Regions from separate parts of the Homo sapiens genome. Here region 2 is linked to region 1. The links come from fine-mapping of genetic effects on gene expression. Tissue or cell type: tibial nerve. Region 1 holds a variant in brackets; the other region holds the start of a gene. All regions are shown on one strand. Distances are from middle to middle.

Evidence for each region. PIP is the estimated chance that this variant, and not a neighbour inherited with it, causes the effect.
Region 2: it holds the start of PCDH19, and the variant in region 1 is fine-mapped to the expression of PCDH19 in tibial nerve (GTEx, PIP 0.99).

What each region holds. Positions count from the first base shown.
Region 1 is chrX:100,634,085-100,642,191 of GRCh38, reverse strand. TSPAN6 (tetraspanin 6) reads left to right here and starts at 5,386. Exons shown (of 8, transcript NM_003270.4): 1 at 5,386-5,584; 2 at 6,446-6,634; 3 at 6,940-7,014. The coding sequence starts at 5,498. RefSeq lists enhancers at 5,191-5,806, 5,807-6,422. The variant A/G (reference allele first, on the strand shown) is at 4,045.
Region 2 is chrX:100,407,056-100,415,162 of GRCh38, reverse strand. It overlaps PCDH19 (protocadherin 19), which reads left to right and starts at 4,890. Exons shown (of 6, transcript NM_001184880.2): 1 at 4,890-8,107. The coding sequence starts at 6,566.

The DNA of each region.
Region 1 (8,107 bases):
GTAATACATTCTACCAGAGTTTTTTCTTTCTTAGACCCCCCTCACTGGCTCCCTCTTGGCATAGTGTACGGTCTGAGTTCCTTAGCATTGCATACCATGTTCTTCACAAGCAAACCCCACCTATGTCCTTAGCCTAGTTTTAAGCATTCACCCCATGCCTCCTCATTCTGGACACCCTCTGCCTCATGCTCTTCCTTGAGCTTCTTGTTCTTCCTTTCACACCCTGGAGCCTCTGCACAGACGTGTTCACTCTGCTCCATGGTCCCTTCCCTCCTTTCTTGGCTTGTTGGAACTCTACCCACCCTTGCTGCTAGGAACCTTCCCCCAGCCCATCCCAGCCCAAGATGGTTAACTTTGCCTTCCTTTTCTCTCACAGCACTTTGTACATATCTCAATTTTAGGACTTTTCACACTTATTGGCATTGTTCTTTACTTATCTCTGACTCCTACTAGACTATGAGTGCTTATAAGGGCAAGAACCTTATCCTAGTCTTCTTCATATCCCCAGCCATCCAACACAAAGCCTAGCACATGCCAGGGTGAAGATGCTGCGTAAGGCCTCAATCCCACTGAAAGCTGGAAGCAGTGGGACAGAAGGGTTCCAGAGAGAGGTTAAAGAAGAAAGTGAAGGGGGAGAATATGGAAATCATAGGGAGATCAAAGTAAGGGGATATGTCAGAAGAGAGAGACAGCATTCTTGCAAAGCATTGGGATTAATAATATAAAGAGCTCACCCAAAACAAGTGAGGTTAATTATAATAACCCCAATGTTTCTGCAGCACATACTCAGTGTGTAAAACACAACGTTAGATACTGTGAGGCTACAAAGTAAAATAAAACACCTCTCTTTATGGTTTGGTTGGGAGGATAAGACAAAGGTGGATAAGGAGACTGACAGCATCCAGGCATACTCAATTTCTTAAGTTTCTTAAAGTTCAGTACCATTTTCAACTTTAAGACTTTTAATATGAAGCCCCTCAGCAGTAAATAAGGTATTGTTTTACGAAATATTAGATATGGAAACTGACTTCCCTAGTTGAGATCTCAGGAAAGCTCAACAAGGCTAGACTAGAAACAACTTTCTTAGAAAATGGACATAGAATTGTCAATTTTAATACCATTTAAAAGTATTTATGGCTGGGCGCGGAGGCTCACGCCTGTAATCCCAGCACTTTGGGAGGCCGAGGCAGGCGAATCACAAGGTCAGGAGATCGAGACCATCCTGTCTAACACGGTGAAACCCCGTCTCTACTAAAAATACAAAAAATTAGCCGGGCGTGGTATCGGGCACCTGTAGTCCCAGCTACTCGGGAAGCTGAGACCAGAGAATGGCATGAACCCGGGAGGTGGAGCTTGCAGTGAGCCGAGATGGCACCACTGCACTCCAGCCTGGGCGACAGAGCGAGACTCCGTCTCAAAAAAAAAAAAAGTATTTATCATGTCTATGTGTCCCAAACTGTATATTATGAGCTTTTTTGAAGAAGGCAAGATCAGGGATGGAAAGGGAGGAAAGGTTTCACAGAGCATCTGAAAGGAGTGGATGGAAAACAAGGGCATAAAAATAGACAAAGAATAGAATTTCAGAGAAGGAGAATGGGAATGCACAAGAGACAATAGAAATAAAGAGATATTCCATTAACGAAATGGATTTTTAAAACTGTACATATGAATTAACTGTTTAAATAATGAGGTATCTGATGGCTGTAACATAAAATATGAGATATTAAGAAAATAAGTAGGATGCGCCTTTAAATTCTATGATAGGCACTTAGCCAAAGGTAATTGAAGGGATGCTAGAAAAGGGATTAGAAAATGAAAATGGTAAAGTTATTATGTGAATAAGAGATAAGATGTACACTCAGCGATACAGTTTATTATTATTATTATTGTTGTTGTTATTATTTTAGTGGTTCCTGAGAGAGAGAGGAATGTCCCAAGACATTATCTAGGTACTCAATTTAATTTTTTCTGTTTTATTATAGTGTGATACTGGGATGGCTTAGACATTTAATTTTTTATTTAATTTCAACAATCAATCCTGAGTAATTACTATGTGGTTGCTCCCAGAGACCAGTTATGACCTCAATGAGCAATCAGCTCAACAGGGATTGGCCGAGCAGAAAATGAACTCATCAATTGGGCATTATGTCCTAGGGTACTGAGGAGAGTATAAAAGGGGGCATAGGGGCCCTGCCACACTAGCTCTTCAGTAGTTTCTGAACATCTAGACGGTAGGATGTAGAATAGGTAAGTAGAAATGCAAAGCAGATATTGCAGTAATTGACTAAAGGGCTGGGTTAATGGGAGTGAGTGTGTAGTTAAGACAGTTATGGTGTTAGAGAAAGAGGTGAGGAAGGAGGGACTTTTTACTGAGTTGGGATTGAACTGGATATTCAGTAGAAGCAGAAAGTATGAGTGAAGTTGAGGGTGGGCAGGGACTAGGGAATAGGACTTGTTTAATTGGGGGGTTGATCATACTGACCTGGTACAGAGCAGAAAATTCACATTGGAAAAGCAGTAGGAAATCAGTTGAGATTGTATTGGGATGAGGGGCTTGGTAGGGATGGAGGGAGGCTGGAGGTGGCACAAGGGAGGTCTGACTTAACAGTGAGCCCTTGTTTATGTCATTTCCCTTGCCTGATGTCTAGCAATGAAAAACATTTACACCTAATCTTGAAGGTTACAGGAAATTAATTGGGAAGGGGGGCTACTAAATGTTCCATGTAAAACAAGCAGTAACAATACTTAAAGTATTTTCCTTTTTTCCTACATTGTTGGCATCAAATTGTGTTTCTGTGCTCAGAAAGAGGGAGAAATTAAGAGGTTGAACAAGAAAAAGTACTGAACTCTCTGCCTTACCACTCTGGGGCAGGTAGGGTTACTTCCTAGGTGGCTGGGCTATTGGAGTGAAGGCAAAAGCCAAACTCAACCAAAAAACCCCAAGTGCAAGGCAGAATTGGGGCAATCATTGAGGTTCTTAAGCTTCAGAGGCTCCGAGGAGTCCTTGTTTTAGGTTAAATGTCTGTGCAACAGCAGTCTTTACTCAGGTTACTCTGCGCAGAGGCAGCTGTACGTACAACAGCAGCTATGTTTCATCACAAAGTGGGCCCCATTTCTGATGAAAGACACAGAAGTTGCCCAGGTTTAGTCCTAGGCAGCTTACTTGGTCTCTTTCAACCTGTTTCTTCATCTGTAAAATGAAGGTGCTAGGTGTGTCAACCTCATAATAGGGTTCTTGTGATGTGTGCATACGAGGTAATGTGTATCAAGCTCTTAGCAATAGTGGTTGGTATACAGTCAATACTTATTATCACAGTCATTATTAATACTTTAAAGAATACATTTATCTAGTGGCCTAGGGAAATACTTCTTAAATTGCCTTAAACGGGATTAGATGCCCCTTTGGTCTGGGTTTGTACCCAAACCCAGGCCTAGGTTTGAACTAAATTGAATTTCTCGGTTTGGTGGCATTGTGGGGGTGGGGAGATGGAAGTGGGTGTAGCAGAGTAGGAGGCAATGGTGCAAGGTGTTGTAGCCATAGGAATATGAATTTCCATGTCAGCATTTGGTTTAATTTGGCACCGAGTGTTATTCAAACAAAGCAGCGTTGTGAGTGGTAGAGGAAGGGAGAGGAGGAAAGTCAACACATTCTTGGAAATAAGATGTGGCTTTTGCTTTGCTATTTTGTTTTTTCTTCAGCTACAGACATATTTCTTTGCTCTTGGGCTCACACTGTAAATCCCTTTCAGTACATATCTAAGTTTCAGAGAAACTTCTCTTTAAGATGACAAGAAGTTATCAAGACTTCCCTTGATCCTTGTTTTTAGTATAAGAACCCTTCAGTTGGGGTCATTTAGCCTAGGGAGAAATCTTTGCATATACTTAGACACCCCCCTCCACCATGTTGAATATTTGGTATTTCCTAACGACTTTACCTCAAAGTGTTTGAAGGTGTATGTAGATGTATCGTTTATCCATTCTCTCCATGTATTTGTGTATTAGGCCTTTCAAATTTTAGTAAAAATTTTAGTATAAAGCCTGGCA[A/G]TGCAATAATTAATTTTCCAACAGTTGCTGCCTTGCACCTCAGACGTCTGGCAAGATGTTATAGGAACTGGTCCTAGGTCAATATTCGAAGCACAGGGAAGCTCTGTGTGACCAAGTCAATGGAACTTTCCTGTGTTCTGGTCCTGAGGTGTATGTTTAAAGCAACGTTTCAAGCAGAAAAGTTTGAGTATTCATCTCTCCTCCACAAATGCAGGTCTTTTTGCAATGGCAATAGAGTAAATAGCCACTTGTGATATTAAGCTTGTGTCAATGATGAAGGGTTGGATTGCATAGGGAACTGATACAGCCTTCTAACCCCGTTCCTCTAGAGATAACACAAACTCACTTAACACTCAGTCTCTGCCTTCAAAGAGCTGACGCTTTAGTTGAGAAATCAGACCTTAACGCACCTCCTGTGTTGTAACAACATAGACCAATATATTCACAATATATAACATTAGGTTTTAATCTCTCTGTAATCAGCTGGGTTTTGATGGGAAAAACCAGGTGGCTGGAATGTACAGTGCCTTTCTGTTTTAACATTTAAGAGGAGGTCACACTCACCAGGGATTTTTCCATTGCACTCTCTCTTTTTAAAAGTTTACAGCGAATAGCTGAACTTACATTTCACTATTATGTAAAAATACTTTCCCTCAACTTTCCAATTACTTAGGGGATAAAAAAGGAGAGGAATACTGGGGTTTTGCAAAGTCCTGCAGGTAAATTCTAAAGTCATTATTATCTTTAATACCTAGCTTAGAAATTCTTTCAACAAGTGGTGATTATTTTCCTCCATTCACATCTCCCCTTCCTAACCCATAAAACAATGTTCACAAATTGAAAAGCACACAAGTGAGAAAAAAATCAGCCTAATTCCACCAGAGGTAAATTTCACTGTTCCTTTCAGTTTTTGTCTAAGCACACGTGACTGTATGTATTGCTTTGCAATCCGCTTTCTTTTTGCAAATATATTTCTTGTGGGTATTTTCCCATGTATTTTCTTAGGTCGCTTTTAACCTCTTCATTCTTTTCCTTCTCTCTAGGGCACCAGGGGCCAGGGAGGCCCAATCTCAGAGCGCTGCGGGCTCTGCTGGTGATAGAAACAATATGGTGAAGTTATAAGGAGAGGGGAGGGGTGGGGGGCGGGAAAGATTCCTTAGGATAGAAAAAAAACAATGAAGAAAGCTCCACTTGAAGACCTATGAAATTTCCGACACTAGAACCTTTGTATATAGTTTTCGGTAACCTTCGGCAGGGGGCGCTCTGAAATTGTTGCCACTTTCCGGACAGCCTCCCATACTTTACCCTCTACAAAATTGTACAGTGTTTCCGGCCCTTCTCAGTTGTGGACGCTCGTAAGTTTTCGGCAGTTTCCGGGGAGACTCGGGGACTCCGCGTCTCGCTCTCTGTGTTCCAATCGCCCGGTGCGGTGGTGCAGGGTCTCGGGCTAGTCATGGCGTCCCCGTCTCGGAGACTGCAGACTAAACCAGTCATTACTTGTTTCAAGAGCGTTCTGCTAATCTACACTTTTATTTTCTGGGTGAGAGACGAAGGCGCCTGGGGCCGGCAGGGGATCCCGGGCTTTTAGTTGTGGGGGGTGTGACCCTGAGCGGCGGGAGCTCAGGTCGGGAACGGTGTGGGGTTTGGGCGGCCATCGCGCCTGGGACCCCGACGCCGGCGACCAGTGACTGGGCCCCGAACAAAGAGCTCAGGCATCTCGCCGGCGCTGGGGTCGGAGTGCGGGACGAAGGCAGCCGAGAGGCTGAGCTGGGACCCAGACGTACCAGCGTTCGAGTTCGATACGGGAGGCGAGGTGGGGCCTTAAGCCCCCAGAGCACGCAGACGGTGACCCTGGACCTTTGCAAAGGCAAGCAAGGCTTGCCCGGCCCCTTTGAGGGCTCACTTGCATAATAGTGTCTTTCTTTTCACTGCTTCGTAAGAGAGGAGTGTTTCGCAGGTAAGTATGGTATGCCTCCACTCCCGCCAGTCTATCCTTGGGCTTGCTTTTGTGTACCAGTCCTTTGTACCCTGTGCCCATCCCTACCTGGAGAGGACGGGGGAAGTTTCTGGAACTCATAAAATCACGTTTTTTTTTTCCCCTTCAAGGTTTTCTTCCTAAGGTTGGAGTAAGATAGTTAAGGAAGTTTTGATCCCTAGGGCAAATATGCCATGGGCTTGTGTTTACACACAAAAAGATGAATTTTAAGAATTTTGATAAGATACCTGGTCCACAGCCTGCTCTTGTGTGCAGATCCCCCCCTAACCCCTTCTACTCTTCCCCCTTGTCTGCCGTATCCCAGCATATTACACCTATTGTGCCTTAAATACCTCATGCGTTGTGATTTGAAGATGCTGCTGTACACAGTGCGTAACTGTTTGTATTCTCTGAATTCCCACATAGATCACTGGCGTTATCCTTCTTGCAGTTGGCATTTGGGGCAAGGTGAGCCTGGAGAATTACTTTTCTCTTTTAAATGAGAAGGCCACCAATGTCCCCTTCGTGCTCATTGCTACTGGTACCGTCATTATTCTTTTGGGCACCTTTGGTTGTTTTGCTACCTGCCGAGCTTCTGCATGGATGCTAAAACTGGTGAGTCCTTGTTTTCATTAGAATTGATTCTTGGTTTTAGAAAAGTTTTGTATGTTATAGAATTCCTTTGTTGGAACTGGCCATGGCCCTTTACAATTTTTCCTGTTCCTTATGGAAACTTATCAAGTAACAGTTCAGCTGCCAGTTTCCACTTTCAAAATAGACATGTTGTTATTTTCCCTGCCCTTTTCAATGAAAACATGATGAACTAATTGAGAAGACGACCATTATTTTTTCTTTGACTCCCTTTGCAGTTGTGCTATATCTTATTTATGCTGACTTGGACTTTCTTTCTTATCCTGCAGTATGCAATGTTTCTGACTCTCGTTTTTTTGGTCGAACTGGTCGCTGCCATCGTAGGATTTGTTTTCAGACATGAGGTAAGCCTGAATTAGGGAAGCTTAGCATGTTACATTTATCCTCTGAGAGATAAAAATGGATTTATTAAAGTAGAAGAGTCAGACCTCTGTATTTAAACCTGTAGCTGACAATAATGGCCTTCTTGTAAAAATTCTGGTCCACTTCTAATTTAAAAGAAAATTTAGAAAATTGTAAAGACTGATAGTCACCAGAAGAAAATTACTTACTTATATTCCCTGTCGTTTTTCTGTGTATAAATACCTATTAAAACGGAGATAGTACAATTTATAACTTTGCTGATAGGAAAATATTCAAAGCACAAAATTGATAACCTTCTTATGCCTTGCATTTTGAAAAGATTGGATATACTTAATGCAAATCATCAGAAGTTTAATATTGGGCCGGGCGCGTTGGCTCACGCCTGTAATCCCAGCACTTTGGGAGGCCGAGGCAGGTGGATCACGAGGTCAGGGGATCGAGACCACCCTGGCTAACACGGTGAAACTGTCTCTACTAAAAATACAAAAAAAAACAAAAAATTAGCCGGGCGTGGTGGTAGGTGCCTGTAGTCCCAGCTGCTCGGGAGGCTGAGGCAGGAGAATGGCATGAACCCGGGAGATGGAGCTTGCAGTGAGCCGAGATCGCGCCACTGCACTGCAGCCTGGGCAGCAGAGCGAGACTCCATCTCAAAAAAAAAAAGCTTAATACTGAATTAGAAAACAGGTAAACTTGGGGTTGTTCAAATAACATTCGGTGAGTAGCAAAGGCTCATTAATGAGAGTTCTCATAAAGTGGTAGCACAGCCTCCCAAAGTAAGGTTTTGTAGCTTACAAATTCCATAGGCATCGAATTTGAACTCAGTTTAAAGTGGAGAAAAATTAGCAGGGTGCAGAATACAGCAATACTGCATTGCCACTCAGATAAATACATATTCCCACAGCACTTTGAACTTGTAGTGGTTCTCATCATATATTTTAATGTTTTGCTTAGTAGTCCCCTCAGCTAACCTATACCCCTTAGAGGACAGGACTGTACCATGGAAGTTAATTACTATACATGTTGCTGCTGTCAAAGATATGACCATTGGTCAGATTCGAGAACTTATTTGACCTG
Region 2 (8,107 bases), 230 kb after region 1:
TAGCACTTAAGAAACACTTTCTCTACTTTGTTTATCTGCTACAGCTCCCTGCTGTTAATGTTATCCTCTGTCACAGGGTAGGAAAAGGGGTGGAGTTTGAGAGGAAGAGAGGGAAAAGTGTGAGGGACCTCAAAGGTTTTTCTTGGCCTCTGTCCTAGTCTTCTTGGTGTTCCAGAAGGGTTAGAAACAGCATCCAGGATAACCCCACCCCTGCCCAGCAGGTCCACATCCCTGATTGCTGCTGTTGATGCCTTTCCTTATACTGTCTGGGACAGTGGCGGGGGAGGCAGGAAGGGAGGGAAGGACTATCTAGAAATCGGGCAATCATTGTGGGCAGAAGAGAACAGAATTTTAGGAAGCTGTCGACATAATATATCTCATCCTAGTTTCTCCTCTAGGAAAATTTATAGTACATAGACATACATGCTGTTATTAAATTAATCAACTGCATGTTAAACTACATAAGGGCAAGGTCCACTAAAAAAAATTCTCAATCCTTAACACAATGCTGGACAAAAAGCCAACACTTGTTGATCTCACGAGGGAAGTGGTTGAGTTTTGTGTAATGAGGTCGTCTTGGAAAATCGTTGAACTGCTCTGCAACTGTTTCCACATCTGCAAAGTGTCTTTATCTCCCAGGGATATTGTAAAAATTAAATAAGATGATGACTTTAATAATGACACTTTATAGTTTTTTTCCCATTTCCTCCATTTTCATTCTTTGATGTTCTCTTCTCTAGGCATTGTAACCTAAGTAAGGAGATCAGATATGCAGTCAGAAGAAGTTTGATTGAATTTGCTAATTTTAAAATCAATTTTTTCTTTCTAAGAGAACCTCATCAGGCAGCTGGTCAAACTAGTTGGGTGGAATGGGATCCCCATGATATGCAGTGAAAGCCAAGCTAGAAGATGACCCACTTTTCTGCAGCCAGGGCAAAGAGAAGGGGGCAAAAGGAAGGAGGAGGAGGAGGAGAGAAAGAGAGAGACTGGAGTTATTTGAAGGCTAATCTCTTTTGAGCTTAAAGCAAACATTAAAAAAAAAAAAACATATCTCAGGCTAGGGCACAGTAGCTTATGCCTGTAATCTTAGCACTTTGGGAGGCCAGGGGAGAAGGATTGCTTGAGGCCAGTTTGAGACCAGCCTGGACAACAGAGAGATACCCCATTTCTACAAAAAATAAAATGAAAAGAATGAGCCAGGTGTGACAGTGCACACCTGTATAATCCTAGCTACTCAGGAGGCTGAGGTGGTAGGATTGCTTGAGCCCTGGAGTTTGAGGTTACAGTGAGCCATGTCTGCAGCATTGCACTCTAGCCTGGGCGACAGAATGACACCTTGTCTCTAAAACAACAGAACAAAACAAACACATCTCAGAAAGCTTCCTTAAACTTGTCAGAGTTACAGTCCCTCATATACTGGTATCTTGGTTCCTACCATTACTTTTCACCTTTCTGGACAAAACCTTTCACCATACCCTTATCAATCTTAGGAGAACAAGAATTAGCTTCACATACTGGTTTGATCTAAAAGTAAGATTTCTCCCATTTTGGTCCTCTTTTATTGCCATTCAGCATGATTTTAGTGGCATGGATGACATTTTAAAGACAAAAAAAATTCTCTTTGCCAATTTTGATTCTGGCCTCAGTGGAGCTGCTTTGACCTGGAGAGCAGCCGTAGGCGGCATAGCACCATTAGTATTAGTATTTCTTAGTAGCTGTTGGATTAAAAAATACTGAGGATGGTCACTAGATGTCCCTCTTGTGTCTCTAAAGAGGCTGAGGAGGCGGGGCTCCCTTCAGGATTGAAGTAAAGGGAAGCTAAAACGGAGAGAACTTTCTTGTTTTTATTATCTACATGCAGAACGATTTTATTCAGTTAGTTAATAAATTCCTGATCATGAAAGTGTTTTGGGCTACTCATTTAGTCAATGGCATTCTTGGAGTATAATGATCGAGTGTGCCTATTAGAAAAAAAGAAATTCTGAGGGCAAAGGCTGTTGTTAGGATTATCTGTAGAAATAGACTGGGGGATGGAAGAGCTATTTTGTGTGTGGGGATGGGGAAGGCTGTGTAACTGTCACTTTGAGATTAGGGGTGGGGAGGAGATAATAGGAAAGAAGGAAAGCATAGGCACACGCCCCTGCCTCCCTTAGCACCTGGCTTGTGTAAAAGTGGTTTGGTAGCTGGAAGTACTTGGATGCTCTCCTTGGAAAAGAGGGGTGCCTGGAGTGTGAACAGCGAGCAGGAAGCAGGGAACACGGTGGCATCGCCTTAGCAAAGAGGGTTTGTCTTTGCAAATGCAGAACATGTCTTTACATTGTGATTGCAATTATGAAGGTAATGACATTGTACATGAATTGAATTCTCCTATTTATCTTTAAAAGACAGCAGAATATAGACATTCTATTAGCACTCCCTAAGGTAAGAGGTCTGCAGTCTTCTTATCTTGTTGTGTGCATCTTTTCAGATGCTACGACAATGTTAATCATTTTACCTGAGTAATTCTTCCATTTCTCGTTACCTGGGGGATTGTTAATGGCCGAGACTACTTCTCAGACTCTTTGCTCCCGCTCAATCAAGCCGTGGAGGCGCCAGTTTACTTTTATTGATCAGTGGGTTCCTGACAGCCTTCGCCACAAGGAAGCAGCATCATCCTTTTTTAACTTAAAGGGGGAACAGATCGCCTTAAAGTTTACAGCTAAAAGCTTCTAAGCATAGCATGCAAACATTTTAGCATGCTGCTAATTGTTCTGTTTAAATAGTCCAAGCAATATTTTAGAAAGCTGCCAAACGCCGAATTCACATCCCGTGATCAGATAGCAAACCCATTTCAAATGCCTTTTTAGGCCTTTTTAATTAGACCAAGATGCACTTCATTCCCATGCTCTGACATCAAAGGTAAATAACTGTGATAAATCAAATGGAACCCTTCCTTTCGCGGAGCCCGCGAGGTGCGCCCACCGCTGCCTGCCATGTTGTCATTCTCTACTACTTGCCCATTTCTCCAACGGTGTCTGGAGAAAACCGGTCGGGCCACCGGGCTCCCTTGAGCCACCACTCTGGTGTCCACCCGCAGCTCTAAATGACCAAAATTAAATGATACTCATTGCAGAAGCATCGGTTTTCTCCCTGTTGTTCTGGGCCGAATCACATCCTAACGTGAAACAGTGAAACGACCCCCACGCGGAAAGCGGATCAGGCTCCCTACGCTCTCCCTTTGGCCTCGGCTACATATTCAGGGGATCGCAATCTCACTCGCGAAATAATTTCTTTCTGTAAGAGGAAGCCGCCTTTCCCCTCTCCCACCGCCAAGGTAAAGGCTGCTAAAGTAGCTCTTCTTGGAAGGAAAAATATTTTAAAAAGCAGCTGGGTTGCTCTCCACAAGAAGATGGCAGTTTTGAGAAAACCCATTATGTGTCCAAATGCCGGTTTCCTTTTCTTGTTTAACGCTTTTTAGAGGGCAAAAATGACGCTCATGTGAAGCCCACAGGCTCGAGCCAATGTCGCTGGGCTAATTATGAGTCTGCTTATCCCACTCCCAAATATCCGAGACGACTCACTCAGAAGACATTTTTACTCTTCCAAGAATTGTGAATTCAGAAGCAGCTTCCCCACATTCTAAGAGAAAAAAAAACTTGTTTAACGGGCACGTTTTTGATTTTTTTGCCGCTGGCGACCTTAATTAAAAGCCTCAGAGCCCGGGTGGGGAGGAATGCCCCGCTGCCCCCAGGGAGCCTTCAGTGCAGAAGGCAGGATGAGCTTGATGTCAGCCCTGGCCACGCCGGCCTCCCGCTTCCCAGTACTGGCACATGCCGCAGCCACCACCGCCGCCCAAGTGGAGCTGGCAGCCCCCTGGGACCGAGACCCCGCGGGAAGGCTGGGGCGCCCTGCACATCGGCGCCGGCTCCCAGCTGTCGGCGACCTAAGCGGACATGTATGGCGTGCCCGCCCCAGAGCTCCTGCCCGGCTTTGAGCTCTGCTGGCTTGGCGCGGCGCGGCGGCGTCCGCTCCACCGGCTCTTCTCAAACGTACAGTTTATTTATAGGGAGCTAAATTCTCCAACAGGGTGGGGTGAGGGGCAATGAAATGTGTCCGGCCCCCTCCGTAGCTCATTCTCTGTGCCACATATCCCATTTGATTAACAAGCAACAGACAAGAGCGAACCGATCCAGGGGCCCTGCTGGGAGTGCGGCACGCAGAGAGTAGTGCGGCGTCTGCCCGGGGTGGAAGGATGGGGGTGACGGTCCGGGGGGGTGGCGGCCGTGGCTCTGGCCTGATGTGAAGACACACCGGCTAAGAGCTGGATGAATGACCACCTCAGGGGCGCTTTCTCCTTCCCTTTCTTCCTTCCACTACCAGAGAATGAGAAGAGAGGAAAACAAAAACAGACGATTTTTTAGGGTGAAGAGACAAGGAGAAATAGAGGGATATATATATGTGTGTATATATATATATATGTGTATATATATGTATATATTATATTCAAGATATGAAGATATGTAAGGGAGGTAAACACGATAAGACAATCATATCATCCTCATCTTTCCTGAAATCTCTGCAAACATGAGAAGCGCACAGTTCCCGGCGAGGCTCAGCCGCAGCGCCAGCACACCGCCTCCCTGCTCATTCCTGCCCTATTGCTCCTGCCTGGCCTGCCTGGCCTGTCTGTCCGTCCTCCCATGAATCCCGCCAGGGCTCCATGGGCCGGGGTACCACTTGGTCCCGCCGGTGTGAAGTTTCCGCTTGGCCCCGCCCCCCCGCTACCCCCCGCCTCCGCTTGGCCCCGCCCCAAGACTGGAGCCCGCTGGCGGCGCGCTGATTGGCCAGGGCCTGGCGTAGCCGGGCTCGGCAGCTTGAGCTTTCTCCGGCTTTCTCCAGACTCCGCGGCCAGTAGTTTGCGGCATCCGGAGGAGCAGCAGCAGCAGTAGCGGCGGCGGCTGGCGCAGCGCGGAGACGGACGAGCGGGCACAGACGGCAGCACAGCTCCCGTGCACCATGCCTGGCTTGCCCGGGAGGCACTGGCACCCGCGTCCCTAGCCCGGCGCTGGCCCTTGGCGCGTTGCGCTCCGCAGCATTCCGGCTGAGCGATTTCATCCGAAATCCTAAACCTCCTACCCCAAACCCATTGCCTCCTGCTTGCTCATACTCCACACTCACACTCCCCACACCACACACTCACTCTTCCTCTCTCTCTCACACATTCACACACAGCCCGAGACAGACAGAGAAAGCGAGACAGACCTCCCGAGTGCGCGAGCGCCCGGGAGGAAGGGAGCCCAACGCAGCGCGGCCAGCGCCTCTCCGGGAAGATGAAATCAAGACGCTCCTGCAAGTAAACTTCGGCGGCGACAAAATCGTCGACTGTGGCAGCTGCTGAGGCGGACCCCAGCGACGTGCAACTGAGCTAGGAGGGCTTCCTCCCGCGGCGGCGGCGGCGGCGGCGGCGGCGGCGGACCTTGGAGCGACACCCCAGCCCAAACGGAGAGAAGAGAAGCACCCGGTACCCACGGCGGCGGCCCCGCCTCTCCTGGCCGGTACTGTTGTTGCCTCCCCTTCCCTCTTCCCCATTCCCCGCCACCCCCGGCCATTAGAAAGACCGGGGCTTTGATTTTCTTGGACAAATTGCCATCTCCCCGTTTCCACAAACTTGACGTGGAGGGTCGGACTGCGTTGTTAACTTTGATTTCCTAGACGAAAACGCCCGCAGACCCTCAACTGCTCTGTGGGGGGAACTCCGCTCCCACCTCGGATCCTGGACAGACGCGCCCCCAAGCCCTTCGAAGCCAGCCTTAGCGCGAGGGAGCGCGCTCAAGCTCTGGCAGCCTCTCTCCCCTCCCCCTTCCTCTGCTGGCCCCGGGACCGCCATCCGACTCAACCCTATAACCGGGTGCCCGCGGCGCTTGCCAGTAACTGACTCCCGTCTGCGACACCCCCTTTCTCCCGAACAGGCCTCGAAGAGGCCAGTGTGGCCCCCCCAGACCCCGGAGGGCGCATTCCAAGCGGGTACTCTCTCCGCAGTGAACTGGGAGCGCTGGGGGGAGGTCTTTGCGCATGCCAGGTGCACAGACAGCGAGTTCGCCAGCCTCAGTGCCGGTGCACCGCGGCGGGCCGGGCAGTGCCTGAAAGGCTGCGCCTCCTCCGCCCTCTTTACCTTCGCCTCAAGTACTGTCCGGACTCAGCGGTGCGTCCTCCAGGCCGCGCAGACGCCGCCCGACCCGCAGCCCTGGGCGGCTGCCGACAGTCGCGCCCGGCTAACTTTGAAGGGGTAAAACTGAGTAGCCGGGCTGGAGGGAGGGGGCTCGGGGCCGCGCGGCGCTCCCTTGGCCCCTCGGAGCCCCCGGGGCCCCCGCGAGCCCCCGCCGCGTCCGCCGCAACCTCAGCATTGGAGCCGCCGCGGGTGTCCCCCGCGCGCCGCCGGGCCGCCCTGGGCGGGACTTCTCCCGCGGCCTCCGGGGCCACGGGGCGCGCGCAACAGGCGGCCCGAGCCGGCGGGAAGCTGGAGCGCCGACGGCGTCGGTCTCGGAGGGGTGTGGAGAGGCGAGGCCAGGCAGAGCCCCGTGCAGCCATGGAGTCGCTCCTGCTGCCGGTGCTGCTGCTGCTGGCCATACTGTGGACGCAGGCTGCCGCCCTCATTAATCTCAAGTACTCGGTAGAAGAGGAGCAGCGCGCCGGGACGGTGATTGCCAACGTGGCCAAAGACGCGCGAGAGGCGGGCTTCGCGCTGGACCCCCGGCAGGCTTCAGCCTTTCGCGTGGTGTCCAACTCGGCTCCACACCTAGTGGACATCAATCCCAGCTCTGGCCTGCTGGTCACCAAGCAGAAGATTGACCGTGATCTGCTGTGCCGCCAGAGCCCCAAGTGCATCATCTCGCTCGAGGTCATGTCCAGCTCAATGGAAATCTGCGTGATAAAGGTGGAGATCAAGGACCTGAACGACAATGCGCCCAGTTTCCCGGCAGCACAGATCGAGCTGGAGATCTCGGAGGCAGCCAGCCCTGGCACGCGCATCCCGCTGGACAGCGCTTACGATCCAGACTCAGGAAGCTTTGGCGTGCAGACTTACGAGCTCACGCCCAACGAGCTGTTCGGCCTGGAGATCAAGACGCGCGGCGACGGCTCCCGCTTTGCCGAACTCGTGGTGGAAAAGAGCCTGGACCGCGAGACGCAGTCGCACTACAGCTTCCGAATCACTGCGCTAGACGGTGGCGACCCGCCGCGCCTGGGCACCGTTGGCCTTAGTATCAAGGTGACCGACTCCAATGACAACAACCCGGTGTTTAGCGAGTCCACCTACGCGGTGAGCGTGCCAGAAAACTCGCCTCCCAACACACCCGTCATCCGCCTCAACGCCAGCGATCCAGACGAGGGCACCAACGGCCAGGTGGTCTACTCCTTCTATGGCTACGTCAACGACCGCACGCGCGAGCTCTTTCAGATCGACCCGCACAGTGGCCTGGTCACTGTCACTGGCGCTTTAGACTACGAAGAGGGGCACGTGTACGAACTGGACGTGCAGGCTAAGGACTTGGGGCCCAATTCCATCCCGGCACACTGCAAGGTCACCGTCAGCGTGCTGGACACCAATGACAATCCGCCGGTCATCAACCTGCTGTCAGTCAACAGTGAGCTTGTGGAGGTCAGCGAGAGCGCCCCCCCGGGCTACGTGATCGCCTTGGTGCGGGTGTCTGATCGCGACTCAGGCCTCAATGGACGTGTGCAGTGCCGTTTGCTGGGCAATGTGCCCTTTCGACTGCAGGAATATGAGAGCTTCTCCACTATTCTGGTGGACGGACGGCTGGACCGCGAGCAGCACGACCAATACAACCTCACAATTCAGGCACGCGACGGCGGCGTGCCCATGCTGCAGAGTGCCAAGTCCTTTACCGTGCTCATCACTGACGAAAATGACAACCACCCGCACTTTTCCAAGCCCTACTACCAGGTCATTGTGCAGGAGAACAACACGCCTGGCGCCTATCTGCTCTCTGTGTCTGCTCGCGACCCCGACCTGGGTCTCAACGGCAGTGTCTCCTACCAGATCGTGCCGTCGCAGGTGCGGGACATGCCTGTCTTCACCTATGTCTCCATCAATCCCAACTCAGGCGAC